Linked DNA regions of Homo sapiens. The protein of the gene in region 2 interacts with the protein of the main gene of each other region in a pairwise test. Each region holds a gene or a part of one and is shown on either strand. Other genes may lie near its edges.

Region 1 (4,114 bases), on a different chromosome or scaffold from region 2:
ACTAGTATTTAGAACAAGCAATTGAAAGCCGCAAATAAAGATGATGAAACAAGTTGGTAAATACTTTTTCTAAGCAAACTGGTTGTAGATTTAGCATTGTTTAAATTACTGTCAATTTTTTCTTATGAGGAGTGATTTCATCATTTGTTTAAAACCTGGCTTTTGACACAGTTTTTCTGAAGTCTTTAGAAATTTGAAAAATTATCTCGCATGACTCTGTATTTCATGAAATACCAATATTTTAACATTTCCCTGTAAACAATAAAACGTACTAATATGGATTATGAATGTGAACAAATTGTGAATGGACTTTTTAAGAAAGTAGATTAATTAAATATCTGTAACCAGAAAATACATTTTTAAAATGTAGGTTTGTGTAGTTTTACTTCTATACCTTGCCACATAACATTTTGTGATAGACAAATGCTCTTTGTTTAGAATTTCTCTTGTAGAGAAAGCTTCATTCAGTTGTTTCTTTCCCTTTATTTATATGCCTGTGTGCATGATGTCTAAATCACTGGTCAGGAGTTCCCTGGGGATTTTCGTATCTGACTACATGGCAAGATTCCAGACCCAAAGTAAACCTTTCAGAGAGTGGGAATGAGTGGGAGGATGTCGCCCTGGGCATGGTGCTTAGGAGGCCAGATTTCCCTAAACCTGCTCTGCTGGGAGCCCTAGGAAGCCTCAGATGCAGTCTGCTGTCCAGGTATACTCACAGGGTATGGGGTGGGGGACTGTCAATTTCTGAATAGACTTTGTCTCATCCACACGACAACATATTTTAATTTTAAAGGCGAACGTCAACCTATTTAGAAAACTATAAGTGTGACTGATGCATTCATTATTTAATAACTCCGGGGTGAAACTTGAGGTGAACGGTTTCACCCTTTCATACTCAGGAATGGAACTAGTCCTCGGTACCGTGCACAGTCTGACCTCACGCTCGCACGCTGGGCTCCCGGCCTCCTGGCAGTGCACTTAAGTGTACCCCGCGTGTGCCCGGCGGACTCCCGTGCACACCGCCGCCGTGCTGTTGAGTACGAAAGACCCCCGAGAGGAGCTCGCAGATGAGAGCCTAGCTGTTGCTGTGAGACTGACTGCGGGTGGCAGCCGGCAAGAAGGAACTGCCAGTACCGACCCTGGCGCTCCCCACCAACTGCGGCGCAGCCTCCTCTGCGGTGCCCGCCCTTCGGCATCACTGCAGTCCCTGTAGCAAAGCTAACTTTAAAAATTTAAATAAAATAATAATTTTTTAAAGGCCCGAAAACTCCGGCTCCCACCCCTCCCCCAGCCTGCCCGGCGGCGGCGGCGCTCAGTGAGTGACACGGCGAGCGTGAGCCGCGGCCCCAGCCGGGCCGAGCGCGCTGCCTGAGCTGAGCCGCCGTAGGTGAGGGGCCCGCGTCCCCGCCCGCCCTGGGCGCCGCGCCTGGCACTGATCCTGCCGGTCGCCCACTGTCGCCGCCGCCGCCGCCCGCGGGCACCATGACAGCTCTGAGCGCTGGGGTTACAGGTTGGTCACCGCCGCCGGTGCCCGGGAGGCTGCGGCGCGGCCGGCTCCGTGCCCTGCGCCCGAGGCCCGCGATGCGCGCTCGTTAGTTCCTTGGCCGGTCCGGGCCAGGACGGCTCAGGGGCGCTGGGGCTGCGAGAGGGGCTGCTAGAGGGGCTGCGGGCGGGGGCCCCGCGCGGGGGAGGGGTGGGGAGGGGCGCCTCCACCCGAGAGCGGGGCGGTGGGGTCCTTGCCGGCCTGGCCGGGGCGCGGGAGCCGCGATGCGCCCTCCCTATTCCTGCGCGTGGGTGTCGGGGGCGCCTGCCGCGGGATGCCCCTGGGCTGGCTTGGGAAGCCCAGGGCCGGCGACACCTCGGGCCTGCCCCGCCTGGGCATCTAGCAGGTGTTGGGGGGCAGGTGGCTGAGGACGAGGCCACTGGGCATCACTACAGCGCTGCACCTGCCCCCTCGGCACCAGGGCCGCTGCCTGGGTAAACCTCTGGGCCAACGCGCGGGTGGGGAGGTGGGGGTGGGCAGCCTGGCTCCAGCAGGTCTCCGCGGGGGCTCCGCGGCCTTGCCCCACCCCCATGCTCCTGTGGATTGCTCCTTGCTAAATGTCCCTTATGATATTCATTGGCCTTGTTAAGCAGCCGTCATTAGGGTGGCTACACCGAACGCAAAACAGTGTCCTGCCAAGCAACACCATTTTGTCACTGAATCTTTAAGACACCAGCAAGGATGGCCTGGCTGGGATCCCTCTGGGGGCCCAGATCGCAGTCATTTTGCTGACTTAATGTTCCTCTTTCAGGATGGTGTGAGAATGCTGAACTCAGACCCTTAGTGCTTGAAATACCTTAGAATAAATCTTTCAGTTTCAGGTACAATTTTTCAGACACTGTATTATTAAGGATGTGTGAATACACGCTCACTTTCAGGCCTCAGAAGGTTTTACTCTTAATCTGGTGTTCGTGTGGTCATCAGCTAGGCCCGACTGCCCTGGTGGTGAAATGTGGGTTGAGGACCAGTGACCTTCGTGTTAGTAGTTGGTGGATAACACCTCTAATAGGGGATCAAAAATTAACAGGTGGCGATTTTGAAATATATATGTATGTATATATATATATATATGTGTGTGATTTGTATGTTCATAACTACAACTGTGATTTGATATGGCCTGGGAGAGGAGCGGTTTCACTATGGTAGTTACCCCTGAGGCAGATGCATCTCAGGACTGGCTTTTTAAATTCAAAGATAAGGTTTCCACAGTTCTAAATAAAAATCATGGCTTCCCAAACATCTGCAACGAGAAACATTTACTCCCTAACTGGTTGGCTGTCATTCTGCGTGCTTTTCTAGAGTCGATTTTTCGTTCTTCTGTAGTATACTTTGACCTAGCCACTGCTAAAACCAGACAGTGTGAAGACAAAATCCAGCTTTGGAGAAAAACTTAAAAAGTGAAAAGGTTCAGTTGGATCCTCTTCTGTGTTCATAGAAGACATAATCTGTTTGCAGAATAAATGTGCCGTCACTGATAAGGACTATGCTAAAATCTCTACAGAACTCTAGGAGAAAGCATGTCTTATAAAATAGTGGTTGTACACTTATAACTTTGGATAGGACTTGCAAGATATTCAAAGGAGAAATGTACTTAAAAAATGTACTTAAAAAAAGTCTACTCAAAATAGTGTCATTTAGTTGCAATTTAGTGAACTGAAGATTTGAGTAGCATTTTCTTCTTCTTGGGTATGGCATTTCTTTGAAATGGTTTCCAGGTGATTTTATCATTCCGGCATGCTTTGTGTGTGCATGTATGTGTATACACAAATGTACACATTTGTTTTATCATTTATCGATGATGTTCAGATAATTTCAGAATTTCCATAGCTGTATAAATTTATCCCAGGTCAGAGTCACATGTGGATTTCAAGTTTGTGAATGAAAATTCACATCTACACCTCTATATCCTAAGATAAGCTAAGCACTGGGCCAGAAGCTGGGTGGTGAGTGAGAAAAAGAGATAAACTGAGAGCCTAAGAATCCTTCAGGAAAGACAAATATGTAAGCAGGTGGATATACAGTGAGATGTCTTATTTTCTAGTTTTGCTGTGGAAACTATGATAGTGAGCTTAAACATATTAAGAATGGTCCCCAAGGCCACACACGGTGGCTCATGCCTATAATCCCAGCACTTTGGGAGGCCAAGGCAGGCCTATTGCTTGAACCCAAGAGTCCAGACCAGCCTGGGCAACATGGTGAAACCCCGTCTCTACAAAAAAAAAAAAAATTCACCAAGTGTAGTGGTGTACACCTGTAGCCCCAGTTACTTGGGAGGCTGAGGTGGAAGGATCGCGTGAGCCCAGAGATGTCAAGGCTGCAGCAGGCTATGATGGCACCACTGTACTCTAGAATGGGCGACTGGGCACAGAGTGAGACTCTGTTTAAAAATAAAAAAAGAATGCCCCTGTCCCAAAATGTTATCAACATTTTAGAGCTTCACTCATGTTATACAATTCTCGCCTGTCTCAAGGACCAGCACAGATTTTCATACCTTCAAACTCTATGCAAATGCTTAAATTTTTTTAATTGATTTTTTGAATTTTAAAGTAACCAAAGTTGATAGAGATGATA
Region 2 (3,500 bases):
AAAAGAATTTAATTGTTATGAAAAAAATCTGAATAAAAATCCAAGGTTTGCTGATTAGAATTGTGTGTTCTTAAGTAAGTAACAATCTCCCCAAGGCATAAAATGGAAATTAAAACCTGCTCTTTCTTCTATGTAGATTTGTATATCATAATGGGTATGAAATAATTTTTAGTGTAAACTATAAAACAGAATTATCACCCAGGTGGGAAAAACCTTTGCTATGCAAAGCATGTTGAATTAATCATTTTGTAACACAAATATTTGTTGAGCTAAGTGCTGGAAGTAAAATCTTAAGCTAAAGAAATACCTGTTAGAATTCATAGAAGAGGTAAAAATTGAACAAATATTCACAATTGTTATGAGTGTAGAATGTCACAGGAGAGGAATGATGTAATTGTATTGGATAATGTTTCTGGTTGCACCATTTCATTCCAACATTTCTATGCACACATATTATCTTAAGTTTCTTAAATTAAGAATCTGTGCACAAAATATCTTAAATTAACAATCAAGCTGGGAGTGGTAGCTCAAGCCTGTACTTGTCCCAGCACTTTGGGAAGCCAAGGCAGGCAGGTCACTTGAGGTCAGGGGTTCAAGACCAGCCTGGCCAACATGGTGAAACCCCGTCTCTACTACAAATACAAAAATGAGCCAGGCGTGGTGGCAGGCACCTATAATCCTAGGTACATGGGAGGCTGAGGCAGGAGAAACATTTAAGCCTGGGAGGCAGAAGTTGCAGTGAGTTGAGTTTGCACCACTGCACTCCTGCCTGGGTGACAAAGTGAGACTCTGTATATAAAAAAAAATCACATACTTAAATTATGTGTCTATTTTAAGTTATATTGTATTTTCTGGGCTGAATTTTACTGTGCTGAATTTATCAGAAAAAATATACTATGATGTCAGTTGTCAACTTTGCTATTCTTGAAGGTCAGATGGCATATTCTTTCAAAATGCCAGGGCTCTCATCCCAGTGAAATATTTTCAGTTTATTTTCTGGAGGTTGGGGTTTTAAAGTTATTAACAGAATTACAAACAGAACACTTTAAAATCCATCTTCTGTAATTTGCAATGCAGCTTGTAGTCTATTGGGGCTGCTATAATGAAATACCATAGACTGGGTGGCTTATAAACAACACACATTTATTTCTCACAGTTCTGGAGGATGGGAAGTCCAAGATCAAGGCATCAGCAGATTCGGTGTCTGGTGAGCACACACTTCTTCATAGACTTCCATTTTTCCATTCTACCTTGATATGATGGCTGAAGAGGCTAGGTAGCTCTCTGGGACCTCTTTAATAAGGGCACTAATCTGAGTAATGCTAGATCTGTTCTTACGACCTAATCTCATTCCAAGGGCCCCATCTCCTAATGCCGTCACCTTGAGGGTTAGGATTTTAACATAAGAATTTGGAGGAGACATAAATATTTAGACCATAGCATGGCTATTCCATTACTTAGATTTTATATTAATCTCATAAATGCTATGTTTAGCCATGTAATCTATATCTTGACCCTATATAATCTTAAACAACATCCTTCCCTAGGATTTCCACATGTAAAATATCTAATTATAGATATGTTGTCTTTTCATATTCATTCTTTAAGACTTATTTTTTTCATATGTTAAAATAACCTGAGATTCAGTAAAATAAACATATACACCAAGGAATATTACATCTAACCTCATATTGTTCAATATTTTCCTTAGCTTTAATAGAATTATTTGAATATAAAATAGTTTCCTTAACATTGTCAAGGTCTTTTGAAATTCAAATGCAAAGACAGGACTTATAGGCTCATTTTATATGGGTGTGTGATTCAAAAGCAGAGACAGGACTCATAGGCTCATTTTATGTGTGTGTGTGTAAATATACACATATGCAAACACATACACACACATATACACAGATATATATGTATGTGTATGCATATAAATATATACACATCTCCATACTTCTAACTATATGTATATCTATCTACATCAAAAGAAAGATATCATGCAAACAGGGAAAACAAATATTAAATTATATAATAAGATTGCTTTTGTTTGTGTGTTTGTTTTTTGAGACAGAGTCTCGCTCTGTCACCAAGGCTGGAGTGCAGTGGTGCAGTCTCGGCTCACTGCAACCTCCGCCTCCTGGGTTCAAGCAATTCTCTTCCTCAGTCTCTCTGGTAGCTGGGATTACAGGCACCTGCTACCATGCCCGGCTAATTTTTTGTATTTTTAGTAGGGACGGGGTTTCACCATCTTGGCCAGGCTGGTCTTGAACTCCTGACCTCGTGATCCACCAGCCTCGGCCTCCCAAAGTGCTGAGATTACGGGCTTGAGCCATGGCACCTGGCCTGTAACAGAATTGTTTTTGAGAAATAATTTTCTCCTAAATGAAAACTTACTTTACAATCAGAACTAGTCTTTAGACATATTGTCATGTGGAAATTGTACATGATTGACAATAAAATGTGCATGTCTATCACTGATGTTATTTGTGGCTACCCCTACCTTACTTATATCACCGATCAGTATATCCAACACAAATTTTATGATGACTCATATATGTGTCATGAAGATTTGCAATAATAATTAGGTTTCCTTTTAGAAAAACATAAGGTATATTAAATCCTTAAATATCACTCAGGACTTGAATTTCCAAATTCCATTCTGAAGAATAGTCATGGAATCACACAAAGATGTCACACTCTTACATTTGCATCTTCCATAATGCAATGTCAGGGTAGTCTATAATTCTGTTTGAACTTCATCTGGCCAAAGAAGGAAAAAAAGAGGCTCATTCTGCAAAGTAATTCCATGTTAGCACACAAGTGTTAAAGAAAATCATTTTATGTTAAATAAAAATGCAGAAACTAGAATGAAGCTGAGCTTCAAATATTTTAATTATATAATGTTGTTTGTTGAACAGTTACAGATCACTCCAGTAAATCTTCTAGCTTCTAACTTACAGCTTCTAGTTTACAACATATTCTCATATAACCTTCAAGATCAACAGATAATAATCTTCAATTGTCAGAGTCACCCCGAATGATTTGCAGAGAACTCAGTCTAAAGGCTCTCCAGTTTCAAGGTATTTTTAATTTGGACAAGCTTATTCTGGCGTTTTTTTCTCCATCCAGATAAACTTGGAGAAAACTCCCACCAGATTTTTAATATCTCACAGTGGGAAGACGAGAGAAAGCAGCTGCAGGAGCATATAAAAGAAGTGGTAAAATGGACATTTTTATAGAGTTAAGGCTGCCAAATATAGACAGAATGGGAGATCCTTTCACTTCAAAACATCTTTTTCACAGAGCTAATCAAAGGTGTAATGTTGTAGACTTGTAAACTAGTTAAGATTACTGGAATAAACAGACTAAATTAATGATACTTCTGCCAAGATAAATGGAAAATCCCACCTAACGAGATCATACTCCATTGGTGGAAATGAGAGGGATTATGTTTTGTTTTTTACTCATAAATCATCAAATGGCCCAATGCCAAGTAT
Region 3 (3,500 bases), on a different chromosome or scaffold from region 2:
TGAGCCCAGGAGGTCGAGGCTGCAGGGAGCTGTGATGGTGCCATGGTGCCACTGCAGTCCAGCCTGGGTGACAGAGCGAGACCCTGCCTCAAAAAAAAAAAAAAAAATGAAGGAAGGGCTGAGCCAGGGTGGCATGAGCCTGTAATCCCAGCTACTTGGGAGGATGAGGCAGGAGGATTACTTGAGCCCAGGAGTTCAAGACCAGCTTGGGCAACATAGTGAGACCTTGTCTCAAAAAAACAGAGAAAGGAAACAGGAACAAGGAAAGAGTAGGAAATGGAGAAAGAAGGAGGAAAAAAAAACAGGAAGAGTTGAGGGGTTAGAGGAGAAAATGATGTGACTCAGGAATTCCACAGCTGTTGGTCAGCCTGGCAGTTCTGGGCATATCTAGTCACATCGGAGGTCCCAGTGTCCCCAAATTTGCATATCAAAGTGGTTTATTGAGCCCAAGATGCTTAGCCCTCACTAGCAACTTGCACCTACCTCCCTTCAAGTTTCCAGCCAGTAGTGGCGTTCAGATATGGGGGCTGCAGTGGGGTCCCACTAGGGAAAATTAGGTCTGGGGGAAGTAGCTGTCTCCTCTTTCTCTCCTCCCTGCCTTTCCTATTCGCAGTCTCCAGGCTTGCTCTTGTCTGCTATTTCCAGTGCTAATGAAGAGTTGAGGCAGAAGGGGCAACGGGCCAGGGCCTGCTGACAGCCAGGAAGCCTAAAGAGAAGCTGCCTGGCTATTGGCCTTTGGCTTCTTGCCCCCGATTCCTACTACCCAGCTTCCATCTCCGGAGCTGCCTCTGGAAAGGCAGGACCTGATTCCATCCAGCAGCCTTGCTGCCTGACGGGAGAGGTTGCCCCCACCTTCTCTGTGAGGCAGGCAGAGTCCCTGATTCTGCTTCTGGCAGTCGGGGGGTTCTTCTCAGGTTTCTTGGGGCCAGAGATTCTCAGGGTGGGGCTTGGGACCTCTGTGGCACTGTAAGGCTTTCCCAGGCCTTCTCAGGCTATCTCTATCCCCCACCCCATCTTACTGAGCCTCTCTGCTGTGTGGCCCCTGCCTCGCCTCCCACTTCCTTCCTTATTCAACACATGGTGTGGGGGGCCAGCTCTTGCCAGGTACACACGTGGGTGCACACGTGAGAGGCCTTACATCTTAAGGCACACATGCTTGATACACGTGTGGCCCCAAGCCTGTGAACGGGCTGTGCACCCGAGGCCTGCTTTGCCCAAATCACATTTCTTCTTCCCTCCTACACCCCTTCCTGGGGTATGCACAAGGGCTGCGGGATGGCCTGTGTCCCTGCTGCCCTTTGTGGGTATGGCCAGAGATAGAGCTGGTATTTAGGGGCCTGGCTGGGGGGACAGGCTTCCAGGGAACCCTTTCACCCTCATGGGGCTACAGAGATAGTTCCTCTTGGGTGGGGAAAAGGAGCAAGAACAGGTTGCCAGGAGAAAGCAGTGGAGGCTGGGCACGGTGGCTTATGCCTGTAATCCCAGCACTTTGGGAGGCAGATCACTTGAGTTCAAGAGTTTGGGACCAGCCTGGGCAACGTGGCAAGATCCCGTGTCTACAAAAAAAAAAAAAAAAAAATACAAAGATTAGCTTGCATGGTGGCACATGCCTGTGGTTCCAGCTACTAGGGAGGCTAAGGTGGGAGGATTGCTTGAACCTGCAAGTTGAGGCTGCACTGAGCCATGTTTGCACCACTGCACTCTGGCTGGGATGACAGAGTAAGATCCTGTCTCAAAAAAAAAAAAAAAAAAAAAAGAAAAGGAAAAAAACAGTGGAGCCCTTCTGAGCTCTTTCTACCCAGCTCCCTCTGCCGGGTGACTGGAAGTCCTGGGTGGCCTGGAGGGCTCCTGGGGGAGCTGTGGTTTGCTGCTGAGCCTGTTGTCTGCTCATCTCCTCAGGTGTGTGGTTGTGTTGTTCAATCCCCGGAAACACAAACAGCACCACATCCTCAACAGTTCCAGGTAAATGGGCTGGGGTCCTCAGGATACCTCTTCCTTCTGGGAGCTATGAGAAGGGCACTGTCTAGAGTCTCTATGGCTCTGGGGGCTGGGACCTGGTTGGGTCCTAAAGCCAGATGGGGAAGTGCCACATGTGCCATTGGTGTCTGCTGGTCTCACCTTTTGAGAGGCTGGGAGGGGGCTAGGCTTAGGCCAGGCTGCCAGTGCCCCTCTGAGCCTGCCCCATCTCTTGCAGGAAAACCATCACTGCCCTTGCCTTCTCCCCTGATGGCAAGTACTTGGTCACTGGAGAGGTGAGTGAGGAAGAGGGCTGGCAGTACTGTAAAGAGGGCAGGTGTCCTGGCCTCCGCAGAGAGCTGCGGTCCTAGGCCTGCTGTCACTTTGGCTTCTGAAACAGACACCAAATCCTGGTTTTCGCTATACCTTAAAATAGTGGTTCTCAAGCTTTAGTGTACATCAGAATCACTTGGAGGGCTTGTGAAAGCACACATCACTAGCCTGGTCCTCAGAGTTTCTGATTCTGTAGGTCTGGGATGGGAGTCTGAAATGTGCATTTGTAACAAGTTCCCAGAGAGTGCTGATCCTGCTGGTGAAGGAAGCGTGCTTTGGAAACCACTGCCTTAACTATTCCTTACCCCCGGGGGCCCCCTGCTGGGCTCAGGAGGAACGCTTCTGTCCTGGCGGCGTAGTCTTACTAGGGGCAGAAATAGACCTGAGTGGTAGTGGCTCTCAATGCCGGCTGCCCATCAGAACCATTCAGGGAGCTTTGAACAACCTGAAGTACAGACGGCCACCCAGAGATGCTGACTAAAATCCGGGGCCACTTTCTTCCTGGTAATCACTGTTGCCCTCAGATCTTTATCATATTTCCTCTATACCCTGCCCTGACTTTTGGCTGGGGAAGTGATGGTATCTAGTAGCTGAGGAGGCGAGGGCCCCGCTCTGGAAGACGAAGTGGGGCTGTATGCCTGTGGAGAAGTCAAGAACTCACTTCCAGTTCTTGCCTCCCTGCAGAGTGGGCACATGCCTGCCGTGCGGGTTTGGGACGTGGCAGAGCACAGCCAGGTGGCCGAGCTGCAGGAGCACAAGTATGGTGTGGCTTGTGTGGCCTTCTCTCCTAGCGCCAAGTACATTGTCTCTGTGGGCTACCAGCATGACATGATCGTCAACGTGTGGGCCTGGAAGGTGAGTGGCTGGGTGGGGTGGCCTGGCAGCCTCACAGGGGTCAAGTGTCAGCTGGGGAGGCAAGAGACTGCTGACCTGCACTGCTCCATTCCACCCCACTGAACCATTCTCATTCTAGAAAGTTATTTGAAGCAGAAAAGAGCAACTGTGTGGCCAAGCATGTTGGTTGAAGGGGCTAGCTTTATGCCTTCAAAGACTTCTGCAGGAAACGAATCTTTTCAGCTCCTCTAGAAAGGGATTATTTCCCTACCCCTCTTTTTCTGGCCAGTAAATTCTGGAAAGAAACACTTTGTCAAGTACAAATTCTAATTCTCCTCCATTCTCTGAGTCACTGTCTTCTTAGCTCCAAGAGACAG
Region 4 (2,687 bases), on a different chromosome or scaffold from region 2:
TTGGAGGGATACAGAGTAGAACAGTTGTAAATAAACTGATATGCAGGGCCAGTGGGCCTCAAAGGTCCCATTATAACATCACACCTATTCTGACTCCTCCATATGTATTTGTCTTCTTTGACCCTCTTTCTCCCCCAGGTGAGGGTCTGGGTGTTTCCTGAGGGAACGAGAAACCACAATGGCTCCATGCTGCCCTTCAAACGTGGCGCCTTCCATCTTGCAGTGCAGGCCCAGGTGACTACTGCTCTTCGTTCTGCTACTCAGCTGCCAACCCCCACCATTCCCTCATCTCTGGGCAGGGGCTTATTGTAGGAGTCTCTGAAGAGAGCTGTGGACTGACCTGCTTTAACCCTTCCCCAGGTTCCCATTGTCCCCATAGTCATGTCCTCCTACCAAGACTTCTACTGCAAGAAGGAGCGTCGCTTCACCTCGGGTGAGGGCTTTGAGCAGTTCTGGGGTAGGGTGTGTCCGGAGAGGCTGGGAGGACATCCCTGTGAGGCAGGGGGATCATTCAGTGTCAGAGCCATGAGATGTCTACACAGTCATCTAGTCTAACCCCACATCAGCCAATAAGTCTTTACTAAGCACCCACCATACCCTGCCAGATGGGTAGCACTTGGTCCCACCAAGAGAGGCTGTTACTAATCTTAACAGGAAAGATAAGGCCTGTGTGCACAAAGCTGTAATGAATAACACTCATTCAGCAGTAAATGCCAAACCCAGAGGAGGGGGGCTGGAGGGGTGCTGAGGAGATGTCTGAACTGGGGATTGGAGAAGGCTTTGTATAGGAGAAGGGCCTCAGAAGTGGCAGCTGGCAAGCCCAGGGATGGTTGTCCAGGGTTGGGGGAAGAGAACTGAAAGGTTGAGGAAGAGTATCACTCGGAAGCTGGGCCCCACCTGTGGGCAAAGACCTGGGTGGACAGGCCATGATGGTGCTCCCCTTGCCCCAGGACAATGTCAGGTGCGGGTGCTGCCCCCAGTGCCCACGGAAGGGCTGACACCAGATGACGTCCCAGCTCTGGCTGACAGAGTCCGGCACTCCATGCTCACTGTTTTCCGGGAAATCTCCACTGATGGCCGGGGTGGTGGTGACTATCTGAAGAAGCCTGGGGGCGGTGGGTGAACCCTGGCTCTGAGCTCTCCTCCCATCTGTCCCCATCTTCCTCCCCACACCTACCCACCCAGTGGGCCCTGAAGCAGGGCCAAACCCTCTTCCTTGTCTCCCCTCTCCCCACTTATTCTCCTCTTTGGAATCTTCAACTTCTGAAGTGAATGTGGATACAGCGCCACTCCTGCCCCCTCTTGGCCCCATCCATGGACTCTTGCCTCGGTGCAGTCTCCACTCTTGACCCCCACCTCCTACTGTCTTGTCTGTGGGACAGTTGCCTCCCCCTCATCTCCAGTGACTCAGCCTACACAAGGGAGGGGAACATTCCATCCCCAGTGGAGTCTCTTCCTATGTGGTCTTCTCTACCCCTCTACCCCACATTGGCCAGTGGACTCATCCATTCTTTGGAACAAATCCCCCCCACTCCAAAGTCCATGGATTCAATGGACTCATCCATTTGTGAGGAGGACTTCTCGCCCTCTGGCTGGAAGCTGATACCTGAAGCACTCCCAGGCTCATCATGGGAGCTTTCCTCAGCACCTTCACCTTCCCTCCCAGTGTAGCCTCCTGTCAGTGGGGGCTGGACCCTTCTAATTCAGAGGTCTCATGCCTGCCCTTGCCCAGATGCCCAGGGTCGTGCACTCTCTGGGATACCAGTTCAGTCTCCACATTTCTGGTTTTCTGTCCCCATAGTACAGTTCTTCAGTGGACATGACCCCACCCAGCCCCCTGCAGCCCTGCTGCACCATCTCACCAGACACAAGGGGAAGAAGCAGACATCAGGTGCTGCACTCACTTCTGCCCCCTGGGGAGTTGGGGAAAGGAACGAACCCTGGCTGGAGGGGATAGGAGGGCTTTTAATTTATTTCTTTTTCTGTTGAGGCTTCCCCCTCTCTGAGCCAGTTTTCATTTCTTCCTGGTGGCATTAGCCACTCCCTGCCTCTCACTCCAGACCTGTTCCCACAACTGGGGAGGTAGGCTGGGAGCAAAAGGAGAGGGTGGGACCCAGTTTTGCGTGGTTGGTTTTTATTAATTATCTGGATAACAGCAAAAAAACTGAAAATAAAGAGAGAGAGAGATCTGGGTGTTGGTGGTTGCATTTGTTAAGGAATTGAAGAAGCAGTTCTTGCCCAGGCAACCTGCCCCCAGCCAGAAGACTCAGGGGCAGGCCAAGAACACAGGCCTCCCCCTTTCTTCAGCTCTCTGAAGTTTCCATTGTTCATTGCTCTTTGGTGGCTGATAGCCTTATCTGCAGCTCACAGTCGGCCAATCCCAGAGGATTAGTGGGTCCGGTTTCTGTATAAATTAGGGGGCAGGGGTGCTGTAGAGGCTTCTTATCGATGATTGACGCCGAGGCCCAGGCTGTTGTCCTCACAGGAGCCTGGTTAATGACATGGCAGACACAGTGGCTGTGGTCAGCCTGGAGTGGACTACACTGCCACTCTCACCAAACAATAAGTGAAACTGTTGGGCTGGGGACAGGATTTCAGAAGAGAACGATGGTAAAGTGGAGAGGCATGAGGATAGTGAATGTTGGAGAGGGGCTTGGAGGAAAGAGGGAATGCCTGAATGGAGAGGG

Evidence for each region. Proteins that work in one complex are often made in the same cells at the same time.
Region 1: the proteins of MEOX2 (region 2) and NALCN interact in binary tests that used the Homo sapiens proteins (3 or more experiments, as listed by UniProt).
Region 3: the proteins of MEOX2 (region 2) and MAPKBP1 interact in binary tests that used the Homo sapiens proteins (3 or more experiments, as listed by UniProt).
Region 4: the proteins of MEOX2 (region 2) and AGPAT1 interact in binary tests that used the Homo sapiens proteins (3 or more experiments, as listed by UniProt).

Annotation. Positions count from the first base shown.
Region 1 is NC_000013.11:101,413,709-101,417,822, reverse strand, and holds the start of NALCN (sodium leak channel NALCN), read left to right. Parts: upstream 1-1,314; 5' UTR 1,315-1,510; intron 1,511-4,114. UniProt on the Homo sapiens protein: Voltage-gated ion channel responsible for the resting Na(+) permeability that controls neuronal excitability. NALCN channel functions as a multi-protein complex, which consists at least of NALCN, NALF1, UNC79 and UNC80.
Region 2 is NC_000007.14:15,620,684-15,624,183, reverse strand, and holds part of MEOX2 (homeobox protein MOX-2), read left to right. Parts: intron 1-3,500. UniProt on the Homo sapiens protein: Mesodermal transcription factor that plays a key role in somitogenesis and somitogenesis and limb muscle differentiation. Required during limb development for normal appendicular muscle formation and for the normal regulation of myogenic genes.
Region 3 is NC_000015.10:41,808,984-41,812,483, forward strand, and holds part of MAPKBP1 (mitogen-activated protein kinase-binding protein 1), read left to right. Parts: intron 1-1,899; coding exon 1,900-1,962; intron 1,963-2,194; coding exon 2,195-2,252; intron 2,253-2,973; coding exon 2,974-3,144; intron 3,145-3,500. UniProt on the Homo sapiens protein: Negative regulator of NOD2 function. It down-regulates NOD2-induced processes such as activation of NF-kappa-B signaling, IL8 secretion and antibacterial response. Involved in JNK signaling pathway.
Region 4 is NC_000006.12:32,167,712-32,170,398, reverse strand, and holds the end of AGPAT1 (1-acyl-sn-glycerol-3-phosphate acyltransferase alpha isoform 1 precursor), read left to right. Parts: intron 1-138; coding exon 139-234; intron 235-282; exon of another isoform or gene 283-360; coding exon 361-433; intron 434-950; coding exon 951-1,123; 3' UTR 1,124-2,187; downstream 2,188-2,687. Other genes in the region: EGFL8 (epidermal growth factor-like protein 8 precursor), read right to left, coding at 2,443-2,489. UniProt on the Homo sapiens protein: Converts 1-acyl-sn-glycerol-3-phosphate (lysophosphatidic acid or LPA) into 1,2-diacyl-sn-glycerol-3-phosphate (phosphatidic acid or PA) by incorporating an acyl moiety at the sn-2 position of the glycerol backbone.